7 linked regions of the Homo sapiens genome follow. The protein of the gene in region 6 purifies or fractionates together with the protein of the main gene of each other region. This does not show direct contact. Each region holds a gene or a part of one and is shown on either strand. Other genes may lie near its edges. The genes, in order: CCDC97, MAP9, RIOK2, ESF1, ADD2, LBH and RBMXL1.

Region 1 (3,500 bases), on a different chromosome or scaffold from region 6:
GGAAGCGCTCCAGGAACACCAGTGGCTTCTCGTGGTACAGCTGGGCCAGGATGGCCACTTTCTCATGCTCTGTCAAGTCGGGTTCACCCTGCTGCTGGCTGCAAACAGGCAGGCGGCTGGCGGCTACAGCGTGCAGCATAGCACTCACTGCTGCATTTTCAGCCCCGGAGGTGTCACTGTCCAGGGCCACTGGTGTTGCCTCAGCTGCTTCCACTTTGTCCTGGGGTTTAGATGGGACTGGTGTCCGGCTCAGCTCACCCCAGTGCCCAGGTCCAGGCTCTATGCAGCCTGAGGAAAGGAGAGATTGGTTAGTTCAGAGATGGGAGTGTGGGAAGGGACTGGGGGCTTAGTCACTCACTCAGCTCACATTTACTGGGCACTGACTATATTCTGGGCACTGTTCTGGGCACTAGAGAAACCACAGTGAGCAAAAGTTGACATTTCAGTAGGGGACACAAACAATTAGCAACATAATTACCGAAAACATAATGTGTTAGGTGTTTCCTGGAGTTATGCGGAAAAATAAACAGGGAAGGAGGAGGGAAGAGGTGGAGGAGGCTGCAATTTTATTTTATTTTCGAGACAGGGTCTTGCTCGGTCACCCAGGCTGGAGTGCAGGGCGCAATCACAGCTCACTGCAGCCTTGACCGCCTGGGCTTGAGCGATCCTCCCATCTCAGCCTCCCGTGTAGCTAGGACCACAGGCATATACCACCATGCCTGTGTAATTTTTAAATTTTTTGTAGAGACAGGGTATTGACATGTTACTCAGGCTGGTCTCGAACTCCAGGGCTCCAGCAATCCTCCTGCCTTGGCCTCCCAAAGTGCTGGGCATTAAAGGTGTAAGCCACTGTGACTGGCCTATTTTTATTTTTATTTTTTAAGAGATAAGGCCTTGCTCCATTGCCAGGCTGGAGTGCAATGGCACAACCATGGTTCACTGTAACCCTGAACTCCTGGGCTCAAGCAATCCTCCCACCTCAGCCTCCTGAGCAGCCAGGACTACAGGCATGCACAACCATACTCAGTTAATCTTTAAATTTTTTTTTCTTTTTTTTTTTTGAGATGGAGTTTTGCTCTTGTTGCCCAGGCTGGAGTGCAATGGCGTGAGATCTGCCCACTGCAACTGCCGCCTCCTGGGTTCAAGTTATTGTGGTTGGTGCCTCAGCCTCCCAACTAGCTGGGATTACAGGTACAAGCCAAATGCCTGGTTAATTTTTGTATTTTTAGTAGAGACAGGGTTTCGCTATGTTGGCTAGGCTGGTCTCCAACTCCTGACCTCAGGTGATCCACTCCCCTTCGGCCTCCCAAAGTGCTGGGATTACAGGTGTGTGCCACTGCACCCTGCCAATCTTTTTTTTTTTTTTTTTTTTTTTGAGACGGAGTCTCGCTCTTTCGCCCAGGCTGGAGTGCAGTGGAGCAATCTTGATTCACTGCAACCTCCGCCTCAGGTTCAAGCAATTCTCTGCCTCAGCCTCCCGAGCAGCTGGGATTACAGGTACCTGCCACCATGCCCGGCTAATTTTTGTATTTTTAGTACAGACAGGGTTTCACCATCTTGGCTGTGCTGGTCTCGAACTCCTGACCTCGTGATCCACCCGCCTCGGCCTCCCAAAGTGCTGGGATTACAGGCGTGAGCCACTGCGCCTGGCCTGCACCCTGCCAATCTTTAAATTAAAAAAAAAAAAAAAAAGTTTCAGTAAAGACAAGGTCTCACTAGGTTGCCCAGGGTGGTCTCAATCTCTTGAGCTCAGGCAATCCTCCCACCTCGATCTTCCAAAGTGCTGGAATTACAGGCGTGCACCACTGGACCCGGCCTAATTTTAATTTTTTTTGGTAGAGACAGGGTCTTGCTGTGTTGCCCAGGCTGGTCTTGAACTCCTGGCCTCAAGTGATCCTCCTGCCTCAGGCTTCCAAAGTGCTGAGATTACAGTGTAAACCACCATGCCTGGCCAAGGCTGCAATTTTAAATGGAAGGCTCAGAGAAGGCTTTGCCAAAAAAGTGACATTTGATTAGAGACCTCAGGTGGTGAGGGATTAAGCCATGAGGTCTCTTGGAAAAGAGAATTCCAGGCAGAGGCAACAACTACTGCAAAGGCCCTGAGGCCTGACTTATTGATCCACTCAATTCTTTAAATCGTTAATACATTTGCTAATTTGTTTACTCATTCATTCACTCTCTCATGCATTCATGCGTTCACCCAACCACTCTTTAATAACTCTAAATCTTAGGCCGGGCGCGGTGGCTTGCGCCTGTAATCCCAGCACTTTGGGAGGCTGTGGCAGGTGGATCACCTGAGGTCGGGATTTCAAGACCAGCCTGACCAACTGGGAGAAACCCCGTCTCTACTAAAAATACAAAATCAGCCATTGTGGCACATGCCTGTAATCCCAGCTACTCGGGAGGCTGAGGCAGGAGAATAGCTTGAACCTGGGAGGCAGAGGTTGCGGTGAGCCAAGATCGTGCCATTGCACTCCAGTCTGGGCAACAAGAGCAAAACTCTAAAAAAAAAAAAAGAAAAAAAAACACTAAATCTCTGAGAGGCCCTAAGTCAGGCAATGCTGAGGATCCATAGGATGAATCCAGTCCAGCTCCTGCCCTCAGGGAGCACCCAGTCTGATGTGGGAGACAGTCAGGATCAACAATAATATGGGCAAAGAAAACAGGAAAGCTGGCTGGGCACCATGGCTCATGCCTGTAATCCAGCACTTTGGGAGGCCGAGGTGGGCAGATCACTTGAGGCCACAAATTCAAGACCAGCCTGGCCAACATGGTGAAACCCTCTCTCTATTAAAAATACAAAAATCAGCTGGGCATGGTGGTGGGCACCTGTAATCCCTGCTACTCAGGAAGCAGAGGCACAAGAATCGCTTGAACCCATGAGGCAGAGGTTGCAGTGAGCCGAGATCAGCCATTGCACTCCAGCCTGGGTGACAGAGTGAAGACTCTGTCTCAAAAAAATGGAAAGAAAACAGGAAAGCGGAGCGCTGGGCAAACCTTGGTGAGACTTGTTTCCCAAGAGTGGAGGGAGCAAGCCTGCGGCAAGCAGGAAATACGTGAAAACAGAATATAGAGACAACTTTAAGCAGCGTGGCTGGGTTGGGGAGGAAAGAAGTCACAGGTGACATACATGTGTTGTGTGTATCAGGGAGGATTTAAATCACTGATGCAGCTGAAGACTGAGCTGGACAAGGGCAGGGGCTGTGGAGGAAGGAACAGGATCATGAGTGAGCGAATCAGAAAGATGTCAGGAGGCTGAGTGGAGGAGCCACAGGGCTGACGTGCTGGAAGTAAGGGAGGCATCCAGGGGAATGGTCCGACTGCTGCTACACGGGCCTCCAGACTCCTCAGGAGAGAAATGTTGGGCTGGAGACAGAGCTGTGGGTGTCATCAGAATCAAGACAAGAACCAAAGCCAAGAGAAATGAGAGGTAGGGACTGGGGAGGGCACAGGGGAGTGGGAGAGGGATGACAAGAGGGTCCAGGAAAAAGCACTGCACA
Region 2 (3,808 bases), on a different chromosome or scaffold from region 6:
AAGAACCCTAAAGCTTATGTCAAAAATAAAGTGGGTTCAAGAACAAAATCTGAAATGAAGAGTTACTAGGAGATTTACTTGAACTGTTACTTTCTTACTCAGTATTCAGTCCAGGTTTAAGTCCTTCAGCATCTGACATTCTCCTGGCAACTGTAATTGAATCAATGATGACTCATCTGAGATGAGCAAGTTGGTCCAGTCAGACCAAACAAAAGACATTCTATAATCAGGGGAGAAGTCTTCTCTATATCTCTCTTATATGAGCAAGTAAGTAAGCATTATTATTATTGCTTTGTGGTTTCGAAACTGTGGGCAAATATATGTAAAATTTACCATCTTAACCATTTTTAAGTGTAGGGTTCAGTAGTGTTACATACATTCTCACTGACGTGCAAGTGCTCTCCAGAACTCTCTTCATCCTGCAAAAACTGAAATTCTATACCCATTAAACAACTCACCTTCTATGTCTTATAGTTCTGGAAACATAAAAAGGCATCTAGTTTTATTTATAACATTTCCTTTATTTATCAACAGCAACGATATGACATTACAAAGTGACCCGTGACATCTTTTTTAATCTTGCACACGCACTGCAGCAAGGTTAATCCTGTATGTGAAAACCTCTGAGTGACTATCTCAAAGTGTATATGTCATATAACCTGCTGAGTTTTCTGATATTGTAATACTAGATACAAGATGTCTGAATAACTCCTTACATTTATAAATTCTTATTTAATTTTATAGCTTTAATGCGGTCCATCATTTCTAATAATGATATTGGCTACAAGAATAATGATCATATTATTTATCATATAATTTACCATTTGTAAAGCAACAAATTGCCCATTAACAATGAAATTGTAGTTACAGCATCTAAAATTATTAGAAAATTATATTAGCATGGAAATATGTTCATGATATATCACTGAGTGAAAAAAATCTGGCTACCAAATATGTAGTCTGACTCATTCTTATTTCAAATAATAAAAAATATGTGTATGTTTGAAAATATGCACATTAGTATTTGTATTTTATATATATTATGTACATCATTATATATATATGCATACATATTTGTATATACACACAGATAGCACAGGAGAGAGACAGAGTGGGAGAGAGAAAGAGGAGGGAGGAACTATCTCTTCCTTTTTTCTCAGCTTAATTTCAGCTACAGGAGAAAGTACACTAGAAACTAATTAACAGGAAGAGTACAAAATAATATGTTAGTTATAACTATCTTCAGGAGATGAGAACTGGGAACATGGGTGACTTTTGCTTATTTGCATTTTCTAATTATTTAATAATTATATAATTATATTATCTCTCTCTGTAATTTGTGTAGTAAAACATCAGTTTTATATCCAAATTTTTAGTCATTTATAATAAAAGGTATATTAGCATATGATTATTTTATCCTTAGCCCACAAATAAAACTCACACCACATTTCCTAACACTATGGGCATTTTGGAACACAGTCAATAGTGTCACCCAATAAAATAAATCTTGAATGGTTGATTTTAATACACTAAACATTACATGAAAATATATGCTATCAAAAAGCAGACATTAATATCTTCTTAATAATTTTTAAAACATCCTAAATTTAATACCAAGAATTTTGCCTACCCGAGTTAACATTATACAATTACATGTAATATACATATTCAAAATGGCATAATCACATGAAATTTTAAAGTAAAAATAACTCAGAGAAACTTCCAGTTTAACATTTACACAGCATTTTATTATCCTATTAGCCAGTGTAAATGCAAACTAGGAAAGTTGATATCTTTCTTTTATGTAAAAGGAAGCATATGGGTTTAAATACCTTTTTATATAGCACTATCAAAATCGGAGTCAAGATTAAATTAGGGAAATCTAAGTTTCTTTTACTAGTTTATTCTTGGGAATGATTATAACTAACACGTAATTTCCCCTACTTTGTGAAATTCCTTTTCTTTATTGTATCTTAGTCCATGACACAGGATTTAAGAAACTTCATTATTTCCCCTCACTTTAAAGTGTAGGTACCCAAATAGCTTTGATCTGGTGGACAGTTATGAAGGCAGCAGTGGAGGAGTAAGGAGATAAATAAGAGGACATGAATCAACTAAATTAATAATAACCACAGTTCAAAAGTTAGTGTGAAAGTTTTATCAATATCGAAATTGTGGAATGGTGAGCAGAATACAACTGGGACCCCTGATACTGAGATCTAACTCTAGATGTACCATAGTTAGTTGTATGAGATTGGACAAGTCAAAGTACTTGACAATCAGTTTCTTCAACTTAGAAATAAAACAGTTTAGGCCAGGTTTATTAAAGTATTAAAACCCCTTTCAGAGGCATAGTTCTATAACTCTAAGGAACATAAGACTGTGGATACCTATCTACTGTCAGGTACTGCTTTGGCAGCAGTGAAAATATCAGTTTCAATATAACTTTAAACAATAAATGGACTAACACTTTTGAAGTATGAAGCAAATACAAACCACTGGAATATTTTTATCCCATAAATCGTTACTTTCTTTCATTAAGAAAACTTTAACCTCTTGATCTAAAATGCCATATTGCATCTTTTAAGTTAAATAGCATTACCACTTTCTTCATTATTATGAAATTTAAATTCTGTATACTACTTTATTATTTAGTATTAATATTTAAATTTATCCACAAATGTGCTTTCTAAGGAAACTTGTTTTAAGTAATGTTTTAAAATATTCATAAAATTTGTTTTCTTTACTTTGAGATCTCTGCATTCTTTAAGTGATCAACGCAATTTATAAAACCGGAACTTTTATATGAAAGTCTATATACTTTTAATGTCCTTAATTTGAATTAAACATTCCCTTATAATACAAATTAATGTAAACCTAATGAGTAAATATCTATATTGACATGACATACTTCCTAAGGAAATATGGGAAAATCATACCTTTTAAATAGGTAAATGTATATTCAAGAGAATATTACCAAGCTTGATTCTCTCCCTTGGATCTTAGGAAGTAAACAACAGTACTGTATTTTCACCCACCTCCCCGAACTCAGCTTTATTTGTGCTAGAAGAGGTGATTTTATTCAACTAGTTAATTTCAGTGCAGGTTGCTGTAAACAGGAAATAATATGTTATTTATCATAGTAAGACAAAAAAAATTTGAAGTGAATGACTTGTTGGGTCTATGCAAACACCTCATCCTACCTCAGAAGCAATCCTAAGAAATTAATACTTACTTAGCTTTCTTTTTAGGAAGGCCCTAATACAAGGCATCTTTCTGTTTTTTTGTTTTGTTTTGTTTTGTTTTGTTTTTTTGAGTGTTACAGCCTGGACTGGCCAGCAAGACAGAAATTTCTTCTTCCTAAAAATGTGTAATGTCAAATAACCATTATCAACCCTATCTATGTTAATGTTCGCACACTCATGAATGGGGAAATGTAGGGCTCATGGTAATAAATCAATAATGACAACAATGAACATTTAAGTCCTTATTATGTGTCAAATAGTTTACATTAATTAACTCGGTTCTCACAACAACCTAAGAAGTAATAATGGTTAGCCACTAAATATGATAATGTAGAAGAAAATAATGGAAAGTAAATAAATAATGTGAAATCTATAAGATACACATCCATGATCTCACATCCCCAAAAGTAGCTGTACCTTTTTCAGTTTTTTTCCTTTTACTTCCCTGGAATTTGTAAATATCTTTTCAGCTCTAAACAGCTAATACAATAAACACTTTTAATCTATTTTGGCAGGCACTGTTTTTGGTACTATGGGGGACACAGGAATGAGTAAGAGAGGTC
Region 3 (3,988 bases), on a different chromosome or scaffold from region 6:
GTTTTTTTAAAAACTTTTCGCCCAGGCGCGGTGGCTTATGCCTGTAATCCCAGCACTTTGGGAGACTGAGGGGGGCGGATCACCTGAGGCCAGGAGTTTGAAACCAGTCTGGTCAACAGGGCGAAACCCCATCTCTACTAAAAATAAAAATATTAGCAGGGCGTGGTGGTGTGAGCCTATAATCCCAGCTACTTAGGAGGCTGAGGGAGAAGAATCCCTTGAACCTAGAGGGCAGAGGTTGCAGTGAGCCAAGATCGCGCCCCTGTACTTCAGTCTGGGTGACAGAGCCGGGCTCTGTCTCAAAAATAAAAAAAAAATTCATTTCTATGCCTTCTTATGTAAGTACAGAAAGAAAAATTCCGTTTAAATGGAGATGTTCATTGGTTGAAGATGGTTAATCAAAGACATGCTGCATTCAAGTAAAAAGCAGACAAAGGCTTGAATATCGAGGAGTTGCAGAGCCAGTATGGGTAACTATTCTAAAATCCTTAAATCGCTCCTGGGCCCTCGAAGTCCTACCCGCGTAGGTCAGCCCGAACTATCAAAATCCCCACTTCCTCTGGAGGTAAGGACGTCCGCCGCGCTCTCCACGTGTCACCTTAAACTCCCACCCCAACCAGCGCAGGCGCACTTCGAAGCCTCCTAGACCAACCTAAGAGAAGTACTGAGCAAGCGCATGAGTTCCATTAACCACGCCCTCCGGAGCTGCCGGAGCAGGCGCAATTAGGAGTAGAGGGCGTGCTTGTGTGATTACAGTCCACTTTACCTTTAACAGATTTGGTTGTCTGGACTCTAGCTCAGGTTCTTTTACCCCTGTCTTGTTGGAAGTCACTTTGCCTAGAGTAGAAGTTGTTTGCGGGAAAAATTTGCTCCTCCCATTAAGTAACCACTTTGCTCTCTGAGGCGGAACGTGTCATTGAGGCAGCAAGTCCTGACAGATATGGAAAAAAAAAGGCACATTGTAGAGAATATCTACACTCCGCCAACTCAGTCACAACGCAAAAATTACACAAAAATAAAACGTTCACTTGTTACATACTATGTGTTTCATAAGACATACAAGTAGTTTTATTTTCCTATATCAATGAGAACAGCACTTCTAACTATTAACAAGGACCTATACTAAGACGCAGCGCGTGCGCGAGCCATCTGGCGCTGTAAAGCGCTTAGAGGCTGGAATAACGACCTGCCTTACGCTTTGCGGCTGTCGTCGGAGAGGCATCTGGGTTCGGACTGGGGCCGCCATGGGGAAAGTGAATGTGGCCAAGTTGCGTTACATGAGCCGAGATGACTTCAGGGTCTTGACCGCGGTAAGAAACCCGCCGTTCCTGTTCTCCCTTCCCCTTAACACTGTGTGACCTCTTCCTGTTCCTGCAAGTTTTCTGGGATCTGAGCAGGCACACTCTGGGACCCGGGACGTGGCAGAAGCTGGGAATGGAGAAGAGAGCATTCAGAAAGTCGGATTTTTAAAAAGGTTTTGTTTGGGAGCTTACCTTCCCCCAGATAGAGCAAAGGTCCCGTCTTCTAATAATTGTTTTCTTTTCTGCTGCTATTCGCTTTGCGCTGAAGAGAAACGCTTGCATCTCTGTGGCCTGGAAACTTCTCTGATCCTGAGCTTCCGACCAGCTGTGAAAGGTTTAAGCCCCCCCCCCCCCCCGAGATTTGATAATATTGACTTCCCTACTAACAGACTCAGTCGCATAGCAGTCTTTCTGATTCATTCAGTCAACACATATTTGTCGGTTTTTTAGTAGCAACATTAGGAGGTTCACTTGTTCAAACAGACAAGTGGAGAGAGAGACACAGATCATCAAGTAAACGAAAAATAGGATAATGGATAAATGCTATGAAAATGATAAAGGATAATGGCATAGAAAGTATATGTATCTGGTGGAGAGGAGGGGCACAAGTTATTGGCCTTTGGTAGACAATCAATAAATATTCACTAAATGAAAGAATGAATGGGGGAATAATAGGAGCTGTGTGAGAAAGAGACAGCCCAGTGAAGTCCTTGGAAAGAGTTGGAGGCAGAGGAAACAGCAGTAGTAAGTGCAAAGGCCTTGAGACAGAAAAGTCTTTGAAGAGAGGAAAGGCCAATGTAATGTGGCTGGAGCAAAGTGAGATGCACACTAATGGTTGGAGATGTAGCGGAAAAGGTGAGAAATTATGTACTACAGAGCCTTGGAGGTTTGGTAAAGAATGTGGGGGTAACCACTAAATGTTTTTAATCAGGGGAGTAACAAAATCTGATTTTATGGCCTCAGTCTTATGGCACAGAAATTAATATATAGATCAAGACATTTGTACATTTATTTAGGAGCCGTTATCTTTTGGTAAGGAGTGAACCCCATGATAAGGACTACCTATATTGTGTAATTATGTAATAGGATATGCGATGTGAGTCACACTGGTTCTTGCATTATGTTAAGGCTTCAAGTTTTGGATTTTTAAAATTAATCTTAAATAGCGCTTAAGTATTAAACTATCAAATGCAAAATCAGTGTGAAATTTGGAAGACAATGTTTACTTTGCCTCTCATGTAGATTCTTCTAATCAGCTGGACTTTCTCTATGAAAACCTACTATCACTTCGGAAAGATACCTTCCTTTCCTGCTTTCTCAGCACACTCATTCCTTAGTGTCTCTGACAGAAGTAGGGGTCAAAAGTAAGAGTGTTAGAGGACGGGGGAGGCAGAGACAAAGCATGGAAAATAAGTTAAATTTAAAAGTTAAGGTTTTGGTGAGACATCAAAATGATGCCAGATTTATCTTCCAAAACATTGGCGCTGCAATATTTAAATTATTTGTAAAGTTCACCAAGAAATGACTTAGTCATTAAATATGACATTCCGGTCTCAGTTGAATCTCACCAGTGTTGGTACCCTTTCTTGGGCCTCTCTTCCCTTTTACTTCTTTGGCTCCTCCTATATCAATAATCATTGTTTGACTAGCTGCCCTTAGCTTTCAATATGAACTTGCCCCAGAATTCTGCTCCCAAACATTCCTTTTCTTCCATTATCTCCTGCTCAGTGATAGCATCCACTTCACATCTTCAACTCTCACTTCTATAAAATAATTGACAATTTTTCCTTCTAATTATAACTTCATTCCTAAATATAGGCCCCTTTCCTATTTAATTTTCTCTCTTTCTTTTTTTTTTTTTTTTGAGACGGAGTCTTATTCTGTTGCCAGGCTGGAGTGCAGTGGCACAATCTCAGCTCACTGCAACCTTCACCTTCTGGGTTCAAGCGATTCTCCTGCCTCAGCCTCCCAAGTAGCTGGGACTATAGGCGCACACCACCACGCCCAGCTAATTTTTGTATTTTTAGTAGAGATGGGGTTTCACCATGTTGGCCAGAATGGTCTCGATCTCTTGACCTCGTGATCCACCCACCTTGGCCTCCCAAAGTGCTGGGATTACAGGTGTGAGCCACTGCACCTGGCCTCCAGTTTTCCTTTAAACATTTTTATTTGACTCTCAGTGCTCAAACCAAATTCAATTTTTTTCTACCCCCTTTCTCTTTTCCCAAGCTCTATAAAAAAAAAAAATAATAAAATCTTAAAACTTGCTTTTCCTCATCACTTCCAATTGTGGCTTTCCGTTCCCTTTACCCTTCCACATCTAATTGCCAAGCTCTCCCATAATACTTCCTAAAGATTTTTATTCCTTCCTTCCAGTACCACTACCACTTACCCTGTTCTGGTGGCTCTTTCCTCTGAGCTGGACTTCTGTCTTAGTTCTCCGGAGTACCCCCTCAGATTTTGCCATCTCTAAGCCAATTTGCATATTCCTGGTACATTAATGTCCTTAAAATAACCCTGTTCGTGTGTCTCCCACGCCTAAACATCTTCAAGAGCTTCCTGCTCTCATCAGGATAAAATATAAAAGTATTTGGTCTACATTTTAATGCCTTCTCTATCCTAGAAGTATCTTCCAGCCGCGTTTGCATGAATTCTATATGCTATCCCATCTGAGCTGCTACTGTACT
Region 4 (3,500 bases), on a different chromosome or scaffold from region 6:
GACTGTGATTCTCCGGAAACAGCTAGTAAAATTTATGAGGATTGTGATGGCCTGGAATTTGAAAGTAGTTGTTCTTTCATAGATCTAAGGTAATCCAGTGTATGTATTACCAATTTAATCTTTTAGTACAACATGATTATAAGAAGTAAAATATTTGAACTGGTAGTGATCTCTGTTTTATATTCTAAAATGATTTTTTTGCTTTTCGGTTAACTCTATCCCATGGAACATCACTCCTAAGAAAGAAAACAAACAAGACAGTGCTAAAGTATTATGTATGAATCATCCCCACATCTTTGTCCTTTCAGACATATTGGCTCTGTTTTTAAGATGGTGTACCTTACACAATAATATTTCCTTGCAACTGCTTTTAGAGCTAGGAACCAGATGAAGTTAACTTTTAAAAATGCATGGAGGAAGGGGCAGAGGAATTTGAAAACAGATTGTTATCTCTAGATCCATGCTATCCAGTATAGTAGCCACTAGTCATATTTGGTTATTTTAGTTAAAATTTATAAGTCAGTTGCGTAGTCATATTTCAAATAATTGTTCCATTTTGGACAGAGCAGATATAGAACATTGCCCTTGTCACAGAAAGTTCTGTTGGACAACACTGCTCTAAATGTAAATGGCTAAATGTACAATTAGGAAATTGTAAGACTCAACCTTAAGCTTTCCCTTGTTTTCAGTGACACCTCATGTATATGATACTTTGTATTCACAATGCTTACCCATTAATAATTATATTTGATCTTCAAAATACAATATAGCCAGCTGGGCATAGTAGCTCACGCCTATAATCCCAGCACTTTGGGAGGCCTAGGCAGGAAGATCGCTTGAACCCAGGAGTTCAAGACCAGCCTGGGCAACATAGTGAGACCCTGTCTCTACAAAAAATTTTAAAAGTAAAAATTAGCCAGGCATGTTGGCGCACACCTGTAGAGGATCGCTTGAGCCCAGGCCGTTGAGACTTCAGTGAGCCATGATTATGCCATGGACCTCCAACCTGGGTGATGGAGCAAGACCCTCTCTGTAAAAACAACAACAAAATCATGTAGTCAATGACTGCACTATCAGAAGTCTGGATCTTTTTGAAACGTGAGGGACCCACATGTGCTTGCACCTGACTCATTAACTGACTCCTAATGCACGATTTCTATCTATACAGCATTCTTTTAAATTTAGTGGAATTACAGAGTTATAGCTTATGAATTTCAGAAATTTATACAAAGATGAATTCATTCAGAAATATACAAAGGTTATGTCTAACATTGTCTCTTAAACGTGTGTCTTTTAGAAAGTTTGTGTATGTATAAACTACAACTAATTAGATGAGAATCTAAACTGTGGTTATCACTGCAGCGTATTTTAAATAAATTTTTTTTCTTTACTTCTTAGGTTTATACCAGATGATATTACTTTTGATGATGAGCCTAAGGATGTAGCCTCAGAAGTGAATTTAACAGCATATAAACCAAAATATTTCACTTCTGCTGCAATGGGAACATCAACGGTATTTCTTTACTTTAAAAAATATGTAGCTGGACTCTATTGCTTTATGAAGAGATTTTGTATATTACTTATAGCATCTTTAAAAATGGAAAGTATTAATTTTTTTGTTATTATTTTTTCTTGAGACAGAGTCTCGCTCTCTCACCCAGGCTGGAGTGCAGTGGTATGATCTCAGTTCACTGTAACCTCTGCCTCACAGGTTGAAGCGATTCTCGTGCCTCAGCTGCCCAAGTAGCTGGGATTACAGGTGTGTACCACTACACCTGGCTAATTTTTGTATTTTTACTAGGGACAGTGTTTCGCTATGTTGACCAGGCTGGTCTTGAACTCCTGACCTCAAGTGAGGCCGCCTTGGCTTCCCAAAGTGCTGGGATTACAGGTTTCGTGAGCCACTGCTCCCAGCCTCAAAGTATTCAAAATTTTTAATGCATGGGTACAGAGAGAAATGAGACACAAGCGTGTCTGCCTCTACCATATCTGTGAACCTGTTTTCAGATTCTTGTTACGCATTTAAGCCTGTGTCAGTTATCTGCTGATGTTTCTTTTTTCTCTTCTGTCTTTCCTGTACACTCTTCTGTCTCTCCTATACACTCTTCTGTCTTTCCTATACACTCTAATAAATCAGTTATTAATATCCTAAGGAATAAGGGGAAGTGGATAATAAATTACCTCCCCGCACAGTTAAATGAAACTAGGGAAAATTTAAAATAAGAGTATCTCCTATACACTCTAATACATCAGTTATTAATATCCTAGGGAATAAGGGGAAGTGGATAATGAATTACCTCCCAGCACAGTTAAACAAAACTAGTGAAAATTTAAAATAGGAGTACCTTTTTCTGCAGATGATTCAAAACTGTAAAAAGAATTGATATGGAATAATTAAGGTATAATAGATGTCACATTAATGCTTAGTAACAAATAGCCAAAAGGTTTTTGTCTATTGAAATAGTTTATTACTTAGGTGACTACCTTCTCCCTTTTCCTTTCTTTCTTTTTTTTTTTTTTTTGAGACTAGAGTCTTGCTCTGTCGCCCAGGCTGGAGTGCAGTGGCGCGATCTCTGCTCACTGCAACCTCTGCCTTCTGGGTTCAAGTGATTCTTCTGCCACAGCCTCCCCGGTAGCTGGGATTACAGGTGTGTGCCACCACACCCAGCTAATTTTTGTATTTTTAGTAGAGACTGGGTTTCACCATGTTGGCCAGGCTGGTCTTGAACTCCTGAGCTCAGATGATCCGCCCCCCTCTGCCTCCCAAAGTGCTGGTATTATAGGTGTGAGCCACTGCGCCTGGCCCCTTCTCCCTTTTCTTTTTTTTTGCTTTTTTTGGAGACTGAGTCTCACTCTGTCGCCTAGGCTGGAGTACGGTGGTGCAATCCTGGCTCACTGCAACCTCTGCCTCCCAGGTTCAAGTGATTCTCCTGCCTCAGCCTCCTGAGTAGCTGGGATTACAGGGGCACGCCACCATGCCCAGCTAATTTTGTATATTTAGTACAGACGGGGTTTCACCATGTTAGTCAGGCCGATCTCGAACTCCCAACCTCTGGTGATCCACCCGCCTTGGCCTCCCTTCTCCTTTTTCTTTCTCCCAATAACCTTTCTGTCCACAGCTGTACTCTGCAGTAGCCACACTAGCTTCCCTCTGCTTTTCCTGTGTGATAAATCACCGTGCTTCTCTGAGGAGGGACTGGTAGCAGAGAGAGTAGCTGTATCTGCCACCTGCTATGCCGTGGTGGGCACTGTATGGCATTGATTAGTTACTGGGTGTAGTAAAACTCTACCATTACATAGTAAGCAAAGTCTAAAAAATTCAGTCACATGAAATTAAAGTCATGTTATTTTCAGAACCAACATAATGATCAGGGCCAGCCTGTCCAGCCAGCCAGTCTAAAGTTCCTGGGTCCTGGCTGTATCATCAACATCTGTCCTAGTTCCAACAGTGTTTTGGTGGTTATCAGCTCAGGCTTAATTGTCAGAATAGGGATCATTTC
Region 5 (3,500 bases), about 41 Mb from region 6:
TCGTTCTGTTGCTCAGGCTGGAGTGCAGTGGTGCAATCTCGGCTCACTGCAAGCTCTGCCTCCCGGGTTCATGCCATTCTCCTGCCTCAGCCTCCCGAGTAGCTGGGACTACAGGTGCCCGCCACCACGCCTGGCTAATTTTTTGTATTTTTAGTACAGACGGGGTTTCACCATATTAGCCAGGATGGCCGATCTCCTGACCTCACGATCTACCCGCCCTGGCCTCCTGAAGTGCTGGGATTACAGGCGTGAGCCACCGCGCCTGGCCAACACAACTATATTTTTTAATGTTAATGAAGACTAGTAGAAAAAAATGGGCAGAAAATTTCCCTTTTATCTAAAGAACAAGGGACTCTTACACTACATTTAAGTTAAGAAAGGGGGTGGAAAAATAGCTTGGAATTTTTTTAATGTAAAATAAAATTTTAGAAGATCTGTGACTGTATCACATATAATAAATGTAAATTGAGTCACAATTGGATTAAAAATCCAATTATGATGCTTAAAATAGACAAAAATCAAAATGACGTAAAAGAAGAAAGCTTAAGAAGAAAGAGAATGAGCATCACACCAGGGAAATGGAAACAGAAAGAAGGCAGGACCAGATTTCTTATCACACAGTAAAATTTAAGACAAAAATAAAAATACAATGAGACAAAGCAGGTCTGGAAATATGGAAGATTCACCCCACAATGGAGAGTCAAGGGTCACAACATTTGTGTCACAGAGGATAACCAGTCATCCCCATTTGCCTGGCACTGTCCCAGCTTTAGCACTGAAAATCCCTCATCCCAGAAAACCCATCAGTCCTGGGCAATCAGGGCCCTGAGTAATACAGCATCAAATATAACTATGTAAAAACATATAAAATATACACAAATACATGTTTATATATATAATTACATAATTATATATCAAATAAATATATAAATATAACTATATTATATGGATTTAAAGGGCATGCTAAAGGACATAGCAAAAGGAAAGCGGTCAAAAATTTCATTTTCTTTTTTTTTTTTTTGGAGATGGAGTTTCATTCTTGTTGCCCAGGCTGGAGTGCAATGGTGTGATCTCGGCTCACTGCAACCTCCGCCTCCCGGGTTCAAGCAATTCTCCTGCCACAGCCTCTGGAATAGCTGGGATTAGAGGCGCCCACCACCACACCCAGCTAATTTTTGTATTTTTAGTAGAGACGAGGTTTCACCATGTTGGCCAGGCTGGTCTGGAACTCCTGACCTCAGGTGATCCACCTGCCTCGGCCTCCCAAAGTGCTGGGATTACAGGCGTGAGCCACCACACCCAGCCAAAAATATCATTTGAGACTAACATCTTTTGTATTCTTTGACAGATCACTTAGGTACAAAGAAAAGTTTAAAATAAATTTGAATAACATAATCAATAAACTCATTTAAATCTATACAACTGAAGTTTAGACTCCACAGAGGATACACTTTCTCTTCATCTCTTTCAGTAACATTGGCAAAGCTTTCCTATGTAGTTTATCTTGGAAGACAGACCGGGATGAAATCTTTACTAAAAGCCTGCCATTCCATGAGTGCTCTTCGAGTTTGGAAGATTTGGTGGTGGTTGTCATTGAAGACAGGCAGTTTTTCATATTATTGCTTTAAAATTCTTTCAGGCTAAAATTGTAGCAGCCAATGTATGTGGAGTCAAATATTGTGGCTGCAATCTCTTCTAAAGATTCAAATTTCTATTCCAAGAATCTGTGTGTGTCCCTGTACATAGTTCAAAATGCTTAAACTATATAAACATCCCTTTTGGCAGAAAAAATTTCTCATGACCTCATGGTTGACCTAAGTCACTTTTATTAAAATGTAACTTAAATATGTATACTCATAAATACCAGTTCTAAACACCTATGCTTTACAGCTTTTATATTATTAAAATGCCAAAACAATGTACAAATACAACTATCCACTTTAAAATATCAAAGTAATAAAATTAATTTATTGCAATAGGTAAGTCTTTCACATGTAACAACTCATTCTTATAATATCACCATGCAATCAATGCCATATATTTATTCCTATATTATTATAGGAAATTGAGCAGGAGAGAGGTTGAATAACTTGCCTAAACTCTCACAGCTAGTAAGTAGAAAAATAATTTTTGAAGTCAGACAGTCTGGTGTCACTTAACCATCAGAACAAATTACCCATCTCATTTTCTTTTCTTTTTTTTTTTGAGTTGGAGTCTCGCTCTGTTGCCCAGGCTGGAGTGCAGTGGTGTGATCTCGGCTCACTGCAACCTCTGCCTCCAGGATTCAAGTGATTCTCCTGCCTCAGCCTCCCGAGTAGCTGAGATTACAGTTGCCCACCACCATGCTCAGCTAATTTTTGTATTTTTAGTAGAGATGGGGTTTCACTATGTTGGTCATGCTGGTCTCGAACTCCTGACCTCAGGTGATCCACCTGCCTCGGCCTCCCAAAGTGCTGGAATTACAGGCGTGAGCCACCGCGCCCGGCCCCATCTCATTTTCTTAGATGTAAGGTACCTATTGGAGAGTTACTAAATATGCATTAAATGAAGATCTAATTCAAATATTGTTAAAATCCACAACAGCAACTTTTCTGTTGTGTTTTTACTACATCTGCTGCTAATAAATTGCTGCAAACTTGATCCATACAAAGATGAACTGGCGTGAGATCTTCAATCCCTGCCAATAGAGCAGTGGTCGCCAGGAGCTGTTCTTTTGGAGTTGGCAAGTTGTGTGTGTCCTGTGTAGACTCACTCTCTCCACTATTCCAACTCCCCTTCCCTTCACCCAGGCTGTGGCTGGAGCCACCAGGCCTGCCCATGGCTCAAATGGAAAGATACAAAGGCAAACGCAGACTCCAGCATCAGTTTCAGCCTTGCCATCAAGATGATCCAGAACACATTTTTACTGCTAATTATTTATGATTATCACTGGAATAGGCCAGGCATAGTGGCTCATGCCTGTAGTCACAGCTACTCAGGAGGGAGAGGTGGGAGGATCGCTTGAGCCCAGGAGGTCCCGGCTACAGGGAACTATGATCATGCCACTGCATTCCAGCCTGGGTAACAGAGCAAGATCCCTACTCAAACAGTCTGGGTGACAGAGCAAGATTCCGCAAAAAAGATTATCACTGGAATAAAACCACTAATGTCAGAGAATACACAGATCTTTCAAAATACGTATATCTTCAGAACCCCAGGGGGCTGAGAGACCTGTGGCATGATATCATTAGCTCATGCTGAGGGCCATTGTGAAAAACAACCCTATGAAACTTGTCCTTGTGTCTGATGAGGAGGTGATCGAAGGCATCATTTCAAACACTATGTCACATTAGGAAAAAGTTCCTTTCTGGTCTCGGAATCAAGAACTGTTGGTTGGGCAAAGTGGCTCACACTTGTAATCCCAGCACTCTGGTAGGCAGAGGCAGGTGGATCGCTTGAGGCCAAGGATTTGAGACCAGCCTGGCCAACATGGCGAAACCCCGTCTCTACTAAAAATGCAA
Region 6 (4,145 bases):
TATTTTTAAATAAATTATTCTCATCAATTCTTATAATTTTTGTTTGGGCTGGTTTTGCGGGGACTGATGAAAATTATGAGGGTCTTCTCTCACGGCTTCCTTCAGGGTCCTACCCCTGTCGAACCTTCGCCATTAATTCTGTCATCCTTTTGCCTGAGATAAGCTATGCGTTTCCACTTTCAAGTACATATATACGGATTCAATACACTCACTGCCTTTCTTTTAAAAAGCTGATTCACTTCAAAGCCAATTTAATTTTGCTTAGTTTTTGATCTCCCCGCGCCCCCTTTCCTCAGCCCCTATACACAGGTAGGTGAGGGTTCTAAAGCCATTTTACAGGCGTGATTGAAGCGGAGGCCACAGAGCGGCAGCGCTGGGTCCCGAGTGAGACTCCCATCATGTGGCTCTGGGGGGCTGCGCAGCTTTGACTGCCTGGACAGACGCCCAGAGCTGCAATTCCTGGGCAGTGTGGGAGGCGTTCGGCTAAAGCTCTTTGTTTCTGCTGTCATGAGCGACTCCTCGGAGAAGACGTGGGAGTCAAGGATGGGGGGCGGCGTGCACACCGCCCGCCCACACCTTCTGCCCCCGCTGCAGACCGGGCGTATGTGTGTCTCCAATGGAAAAATCCTACCCAGGACGACACCACATCCTTGCTCCCACAAATAAAACCTTCCACGGAACTCAGGGCTGCAGACCAGCCCTTCGCAAGCCAACGCGCCCCGTGGGCACTCGGTCCCCCGGCTCCGCGTCTCTGCCACCTTCCCACCGCTTCTTCTTTAACCATGCTCTTGTTTCCCCTCGCTGATCGCAAGGCTGCGGGCGAGGATTCCAGAGAGAGGCCTAGTATGGGGAACAAACGCTTCAGAGGGGTCCGAGGTGGGCTGGGGACAGCCAGTGGATGGGAAGGAGGGCGCTGGCGCCGGGCGGCTGGGGTGGAGGAGTGGCGGGTGCCCTACCCCGGCGCAGAGCAGCCGCCGAGCTGTCATGTCCCGAGCGGCCCCCGCGCCCTCCTTGCGCCCACCTCCGCCGCGCTGGAGTTCGGGGTGTGCGTGGAGGGGGCTGTGAGCGGGAAGCGGCGCGGACGCGGAGTCCGGGCCGGTGCGAGTGAGCGCGTGTGCGCGTGGGAGAGCGGCGGGAGGGGGCCGGGCTCGCAGCCGCAGCGAACCACGGCCCCGGGAGCAGAGCCGAGCGCGCCCCCGAGCCGCCGCCCGCCGGAGCTGCGAGCGCTGAAGCCATTCATGATTTTGGTGACGTTATTCCAGGAGTGGGCGAGGGAGGGCGGGGCCTCTCGGGGCCAAGCCCCGCCCCCGCCCCTATAAATACGGCTTCCCGGGCTCTTTGTGGGGCTGAGTGCTCAGTGGAGAGCGGGGAGTTGTGTCCACCTTGCCGACGTCGCTAGCCGTGGGGCTGTCCTGGGAAGGCGGACGGCGAGCGCCCGGTGTCCGCACTCGGCCGCCTGCCGTGCCCGTCTGCGCCCGTGTCATCCTCACTCGGGACGCAGGGACCGTTTTTAAATCACAGGGGCGTGTGTCAGCCTGCCCTAGGACTTCATGTCTATATATTTCCCCATTCACTGGTGAGTACCCTGCGCCTGCGGCGGGCGTCTGTCTCGCGGCGGTGGCTGCGGGCCCGGGCGCCTGCTTCGTGCCGGCTCCGGGTGCGAGGGCAGCCGGCGGCGCGGGCGCTCAGCGCTAACCCGCCGCCCGAGCCCGTGCAGGAGTCAACGTCAAGGTTGCAAAGGTGGGGGTGGGGGGAGGGGGTGCTGAGAACATCCAGACAAAGGACGTGAACTCGGAGCCCTCACCTAAGTGACGGCCGGAGGGTTTGTATTGGTTGGCGGGGGAGCCAGGGGTCACGTGTGAATCCCCCCCAATGAAACCACCCTATGCGGAGAGCTGCAGGAGGCGCGCGCCCCACTTGGCGCAGGGGGGCTCCTGCTCTTCCCGGGCCCCTCCTCTTTTTCTTTTTGTTTGCATGCAAGTCTCAACGTCGAGGCCGGCAGCAGCGGGGCTGAGCTGGTGCGGCCGCAGGGTTTGCAGAGCTCCGGGGGGGTGGGGGGCGGGAAACGCTCTCCCCACACGTAACCCCACTAAAGCCACAAGCAGCAGGGCACGCGCTGCAGCCTCTCAACCCCTGCCCTCTCCACCGCCCCTAAAAACCGACGCACATTGGTGGGGGCCGGGACTGGGAGGAGCCGCCTTCGCCGTGCTGAAGGGGAAGGAGCCCGGGCCGGGCGCGGGGCGTCGGAGGTTTGCCCCGGACTGGGGATCGGAGCCGGGAGGGATGCAGAGAGAGGCAGGCCCCTGACTGCTGGGACTTCCTTGCTGGCAGTTTCTTCCTTCCTGCTCTGGGTTAGAGGAGAAGCGGCCGGGGGCGAGCGCCGGCAGCCCCGGAGCGCGCTCTCAGGTGCGGACGTGGGGAGCTCGGCCCCGAGTCTCCGGCAGGCGCTGAGCGAAGGGAAAACCGGCGCAAGCCGCGGCGGGGTCCGGCCTGGCCCAAGAAGCGGAAAGTTCATGCTTCTCGCTTCAACTTTTCGGGCCGGCGCCACAGCCCCGAGCGAGGAAGAGCCGCCCCTACGTCAGACTCTTCACCCTGCGTGCGCTCTTCTGGCTCCTTTCTTTGGAGGTCGCCAGCAGCCTTTCCAAGACCCGGGAGGAAACTGCCTTTGCAGGGCCCAGCTCCCGAACCTAAACTTGCCGCAAAGCCCCGCATCTTCTGTTAGTCTCCCTGCCCCCATCCGTCCCAGCCTGGCAGTGTTTAGAGAGGGGACTGAACTTCCCTCTCTCAACAGTTCAAGTTCCCCCACCCCGAGGCTTGTGTACCCTTCTTGTGGGTGCCCCTCCCTTGCCTCTCCCGTGGTGTGTGAGCAGCTAGGTGCCTTATTATAGGTGAAGCTTTGAAGGCTGTTGGAGGCTTTGTGCCTTTGGCTGCTCAAAATTTGCCAAGGTGGGTGTTTGGACCCATTAAGAATATTATGAGAAATTAAGGTTTAAGTTTATTTCATCGATTAGCACTTTGCAGCTTGCAATGCTTTTATGCAGACATTAGCCCTTAACCTAACTGTGAGGTATGCACTATTAGCATCAGAGTAACAGACAAACAGGACACTTGTGGCTCAGAGAAGTTACAGGACCTGTTCAAGATCACACAGTTCTTGAGGGGCAGAGCCTAGAACCTATTGCTTCTGTTTCTAAATCCAGTGTCATTTCTTATCTATGTAGTAACCATACAATTGAAGAGGCATCTGGTACCCCTGTTTCCTTAGATACTGTCCCTCAAAAGACTCCCCCATATTTTTGTTTTAAACCATGTGCACAGGCACGATGGTGGAAAGCATTGGGTGCTGTGTAGCAGGTACCTGTATTTGGTGCTTATGTTCAGCATTATGTGCACGGGATCCTGTATGTGCCCAGAGTTTGTGCAAGGATAAGGGAATATTCGTATCCTGCTTAGAGAGTACAAGGCACTTTCACATGTCAGCCATTGGTGGGCCAGCTTGGCCCCTCTGGAAATTTCCTTTGCAGTCAGAGTCGGGTATCCTTAAGGCTTTTAATCCAGGGGATGTTTTTCAAGCTGTGAGCATGCAGCTGCTGTGTCTGGGGCTAGAGAAAGGGGATGGATGGCAGATGTGAAACTTGCAGAAAAGCTGACCCCTTGGGGCTTTAAGTGGAACATTTTGCCAAAAGGAGCACCAGAGAGACAAATTTAGGAAAGCTGTATGATTGGACTTTGTTTCCCTCCAGTTGACCTGTTATTGTTATTGTGTATTAATAATATATAGAGTTCCCCTTTGGAAAGTTCATGTGAGGATTATTTTTATTCTTAGTTGGAGAAGTGAAGGGAGATGTGGTTGAATTGGTTTTAATATAGACAGATGGACTCAGCTACCTACTGTTTTGGTTTCTCTGGTTCTGTCATTTAAAGAAACATTCAGGGTCCCTCTGTGCCAGTGGGGACTAGAGTACAGGAGAGGAGGGAAGAGGTTTGCCAGAGAGGTCTGCAGACAATGGGCTTTGTCTGTTGCGGCTGAGCCCTGGGGCTGTGGGCTTGCAAGGCGCTTCCTCAGGGTGTGAGCTTGTTTTGCTGCAAGTTCTGTTTTGAACACCTCTCTTCCTGTCTCCAGACAGTCCCCTGATCCCACAGCA
Region 7 (3,500 bases), on a different chromosome or scaffold from region 6:
GGCTCACTGCAGCCTCCGCCTCTCGGGTTCAAGCAATTCTCCTGCCTCAGCCTCCTGAGTAGCTGGGACTATAGGTGCCCGCCACCACTCCCGGCCAATATTTGTATTTTTTGTAGAGACGGGGTTTTGCCATGTTGGCCAGGCTGGTCTCAAACTACTGGGCTCAAGTGATCCACCCTCCTCAGCCTCCCAAAGTGCTGAGATTACAGGCATGAGTCACTGCGTCCAGCCCAACCCTCTCTTTTGATGTGAAAGTATCACCTTTTGTACATTTAGTCCATACCCAATATCTCTTTGCCTCCTTTAGTGCAAAGTTACTCATCCTTACTTGTATCTAAGAGAATCTTTCCTACTTTCTGAGTGGGCACTAGTTTTGGAGTATATATATTGTATGCCATGAACTATATTTTTCTGCTTATGGCTTTGCCTCATTTAATTGCCATAGCACTTACATGGGGCAGGTATTCATTTTCCTGCTTAGCAAATAAGGAAACTGAATTTCAGAGATGTCAGGTAACCTGCCTACTTCACACACTAGGAGTTTTGATGTTTAATTTTGAACTAAGATCTATCTGGCTTGAAAGCTCTTTGCATTAAACAACCTTGAACAATATACTTGGAACGTAGGTGTGTTTTTGGCACAGAACATGGCATGTGTGTGAGGGATTGAACACAGACTTGCCCAGATTCAAACTTACCAATCTTCTGTTTCATGTGCCCAGAAGAAACAGCCTGTTTCTCAGCCTCAAACCCAAACTTCTAGTTGTCTTGATTGGTTCAGCCTGACTGTCCAACTCTGATTTATAGCTGTGATTGGGGGAGCTGAGATTACACAGTGTAGGCAGGCAGAAGGGCCCCAGGCCTATTGATATGGGTGAGGACAATACTCACGCACTCCCTTCACTTACTCACTCTTCCAAGGTCTTGGCTTGAACCCAATTTTTTTTGAGAGAATAAACCAGGCTTTTTGTTCTCCACTTGGCCTGACTCCATTTCTGGCATTCCAGCCATGTATTTAGCTGTTATCAGCTTTCAGATTTAGAGAAAGCCTTGTTTCCAATAAGCTTGTTTCTCTGAAGTAATTGTTAAAATATAATTTTCAGAAAAAGGTTAAATCATGACTCATACAAATATAAAAATGAACATGTGCTAAAGATTTTTATTTCACTCATGTGATATGAAGTAACCAGACAGAAGTTATAACCAGTACATATGGAAAGTCAAAAAGCACAAATTCATATGTAGTAAAGGAATTGGATTGCAAATGAAGGCAAAACTGTTTTTTCTACAGGGTGGAGGGAAGATAATCAAAATGCTAGAACCAGAATTTGCATGCCTGTCACTTAGCTTCAATTTACAAAAGCCCAGAATAACTCAAAGGCAAATTCTAGCCCTGCAAATATCAGCCCTAAAGCTGTGCTGTGGCCAGTGCATAGTTTTCTATTGAAGTACAATTTTTTCCCCAAATACATTATCTCTCAGAGGGAGTCCAAATTGCTTCCCTTTCACTCAGCAGATCTGTTCAGTCAACAGATGTTAAATAGCTACAGCGTATCAGGCACAAATAATTCTTTATAAAATAAAGTAACAAACTATATGTTGTTTCAAAGTTCCAGTTAAGGCCAGCCGTGGTAGCTCACCCTTATAATCCCAACACTGGGAGGCCGAGGCAGGCGGATCACTTGGGCTAGGAGTTCCATACCAGCATGGCCAACATGGTGAAACCCTGCTCTACTAAAATACAAAAATTAGCCAGGTGTGGTGGCGCATGCCGGTAATCCAAGCTACTCAGGTGGCTGAGGCACAAGAATGGCTTGAGCCTGGGAGGCAGAGGTTGCAGTGAGCCAAGATTGCGCCGCTGCACTCCAGCCTGGGCAACACTGTGAGACTCCTGTCTACAAAAAAAAAAAAAAAAAAAAAAAAAAGCAACAAAAAAAGGGCTCCTGTTAATTATACACACTTTTGAGCTTAATATAATTGCATTTTTTATGTATCTTTAAGCATCTTTCCCTGCTTTACATTTCCACTTCTGAGTTTTACTTTCATTTCTTCCACCATTACAGGAACATTCTGTTGTTTTCCTCTGCCATCTAGTGGCAAAAGAAAGTAATTTTCCTGGTTTTTTGAATGGATAGCCATACCTTAAAAAGCATCCAGATTGCGCAGTAGTGCTAGCGGCTTCGCGGTTCAGTCCTCCTAACTGACAGCCGCCACTGGTGCTGAGCTGCTAGGAAGCCCCTGTCGGCGAGCTTGTTGGAGCTTGAACCCACTGTCACCCCTCCGACTCACCGGCAAAAAAAAAAATGGTTGAAGCAGATCGCCCAGGAAAGCTCTTCATTGGTGGGCTTAATACGGAAACAAATGAGAAAGCTCTTGAAACAGTATTTGGCAAATATGGACGAATAGTGGAAGTACTCTTGATAAAAGACCGTGAAACCAACAAATCAAGAGGATTTGCTTTTGTCACCTTTGAAAGCCCAGCAGACGCTAAGGATGCAGCCAGAGACATGAATGGAAAGTCATTAGATGGAAAAGCCATCAAGGTGGAACAAGCCACCAAACCATCATTTGAAAGAGGTAGACATGGACCGCCCCCACCTCCAAGAAGTAGAGGTCCTCCAAGAGGTTTTGGAGCTGGAAGAGGAGGAAGTGGAGGAACCAGGGGACCTCCTTCACGAGGAGGACACATGGATGATGGTGGATATTCCATGAATTTTAACATGAGTTCTTCCAGGGGACCACTCCCAGTAAAAAGAGGACCACCACCAAGAAGTGGGGGTCCTTCTCCTAAGAGATCTGCACCTTCAGGACTAGTTCGCAGCAGCAGTGGAATGGGAGGAAGAGCTCCTCTATCACGTGGAAGAGATAGTTATGGAGGTCCACCTCGAAGGGAACCGCTCCCCTCTCGTAGAGATGTTTATTTGTCCCCAAGAGATGATGGGTATTCTACTAAAGACAGCTATTCAAGCAGAGATTACCCAAGTTCTCGTGATACAAGAGATTATGCACCACCACCACGAGATTATACTTACCGTGATTATGGTCATTCCAGTTCACGTGATGACTATCCATCAAGAGGCTATGGCGATAGAGATGGATATGGTCGTGATCGTGACTATTCAGATCATCCAAGTGGAGGTTCCTACAGAGATTCATATGAGAGTTATGGTAACTCACGTAGTGCTCCACTTACACGAGGGCCCCCGCCATCTTATGGTGGAAGCAGTCGCTATGATGATTATAGCAGCTCACGTGATGGATATGGTGGAAGTCGAGACAGTTACTCAAGCAGCCGAAGTGATCTCTACTCAAGTTGTGACAGGGTTGGCAGACAAGAAAGAGGGCTTCCCCCTTCTGTAGAAAGGGGGTACCCTTCTTCACGTGATTCCTACAGCAGTTCAAGCCGCGGAGCACCAAGAGGTGCTGGCCCTGGAGGAAGCCGATCTGATAGAGGGGGAGGCAGAAGCAGATACTAGAAACAAACAAAACTTTGGACCAAA

Evidence for each region.
Region 1: the proteins of LBH (region 6) and CCDC97 purify together in Homo sapiens (affinity purification with mass spectrometry; one large-scale study listed by BioGRID and IntAct). This does not show direct contact.
Region 2: the proteins of LBH (region 6) and MAP9 purify together in Homo sapiens (affinity purification with mass spectrometry; one large-scale study listed by BioGRID and IntAct). This does not show direct contact.
Region 3: the proteins of LBH (region 6) and RIOK2 purify together in Homo sapiens (affinity purification with mass spectrometry; one large-scale study listed by BioGRID and IntAct). This does not show direct contact.
Region 4: the proteins of LBH (region 6) and ESF1 purify together in Homo sapiens (affinity purification with mass spectrometry; one large-scale study listed by BioGRID and IntAct). This does not show direct contact.
Region 5: the proteins of LBH (region 6) and ADD2 purify together in Homo sapiens (affinity purification with mass spectrometry; one large-scale study listed by BioGRID and IntAct). This does not show direct contact.
Region 7: the proteins of LBH (region 6) and RBMXL1 purify together in Homo sapiens (affinity purification with mass spectrometry; one large-scale study listed by BioGRID and IntAct). This does not show direct contact.

Annotation. Positions count from the first base shown.
Region 1 is NC_000019.10:41,313,172-41,316,671, reverse strand, and holds part of CCDC97 (coiled-coil domain-containing protein 97), read right to left. Parts: intron 289-3,500; coding exon 1-288. UniProt on the Homo sapiens protein: May play a role pre-mRNA splicing through the association with the splicing factor SF3B complex which is involved in branch-site recognition.
Region 2 is NC_000004.12:155,342,158-155,345,965, forward strand, and holds the end of MAP9 (microtubule-associated protein 9), read right to left. Parts: 3' UTR 501-3,808; downstream 1-500. UniProt on the Homo sapiens protein: Involved in organization of the bipolar mitotic spindle. Required for bipolar spindle assembly, mitosis progression and cytokinesis. May act by stabilizing interphase microtubules.
Region 3 is NC_000005.10:97,180,448-97,184,435, reverse strand, and holds the start of RIOK2 (serine/threonine-protein kinase RIO2), read left to right. Parts: upstream 1-1,188; 5' UTR 1,189-1,244; coding exon 1,245-1,310; intron 1,311-3,988. UniProt on the Homo sapiens protein: Serine/threonine-protein kinase involved in the final steps of cytoplasmic maturation of the 40S ribosomal subunit. Involved in export of the 40S pre-ribosome particles (pre-40S) from the nucleus to the cytoplasm.
Region 4 is NC_000020.11:13,767,920-13,771,419, reverse strand, and holds part of ESF1 (ESF1 homolog), read left to right. Parts: coding exon 1-89; intron 90-1,398; coding exon 1,399-1,513; intron 1,514-3,500. UniProt on the Homo sapiens protein: May constitute a novel regulatory system for basal transcription. Negatively regulates ABT1.
Region 5 is NC_000002.12:70,761,701-70,765,200, forward strand, and holds part of ADD2 (beta-adducin), read right to left. Parts: intron 1-3,500. UniProt on the Homo sapiens protein: Membrane-cytoskeleton-associated protein that promotes the assembly of the spectrin-actin network. Binds to the erythrocyte membrane receptor SLC2A1/GLUT1 and may therefore provide a link between the spectrin cytoskeleton to the plasma membrane.
Region 6 is NC_000002.12:30,230,189-30,234,333, forward strand, and holds the start of LBH (protein LBH), read left to right. Parts: upstream 1-1,345; 5' UTR 1,346-1,550; coding exon 1,551-1,576; intron 1,577-4,145. UniProt on the Homo sapiens protein: Transcriptional activator which may act in mitogen-activated protein kinase signaling pathway.
Region 7 is NC_000001.11:88,982,630-88,986,129, reverse strand, and holds part of RBMXL1 (RNA binding motif protein, X-linked-like-1), read left to right. Parts: intron 1-2,063; 5' UTR 2,064-2,303; coding exon 2,304-3,476; 3' UTR 3,477-3,500.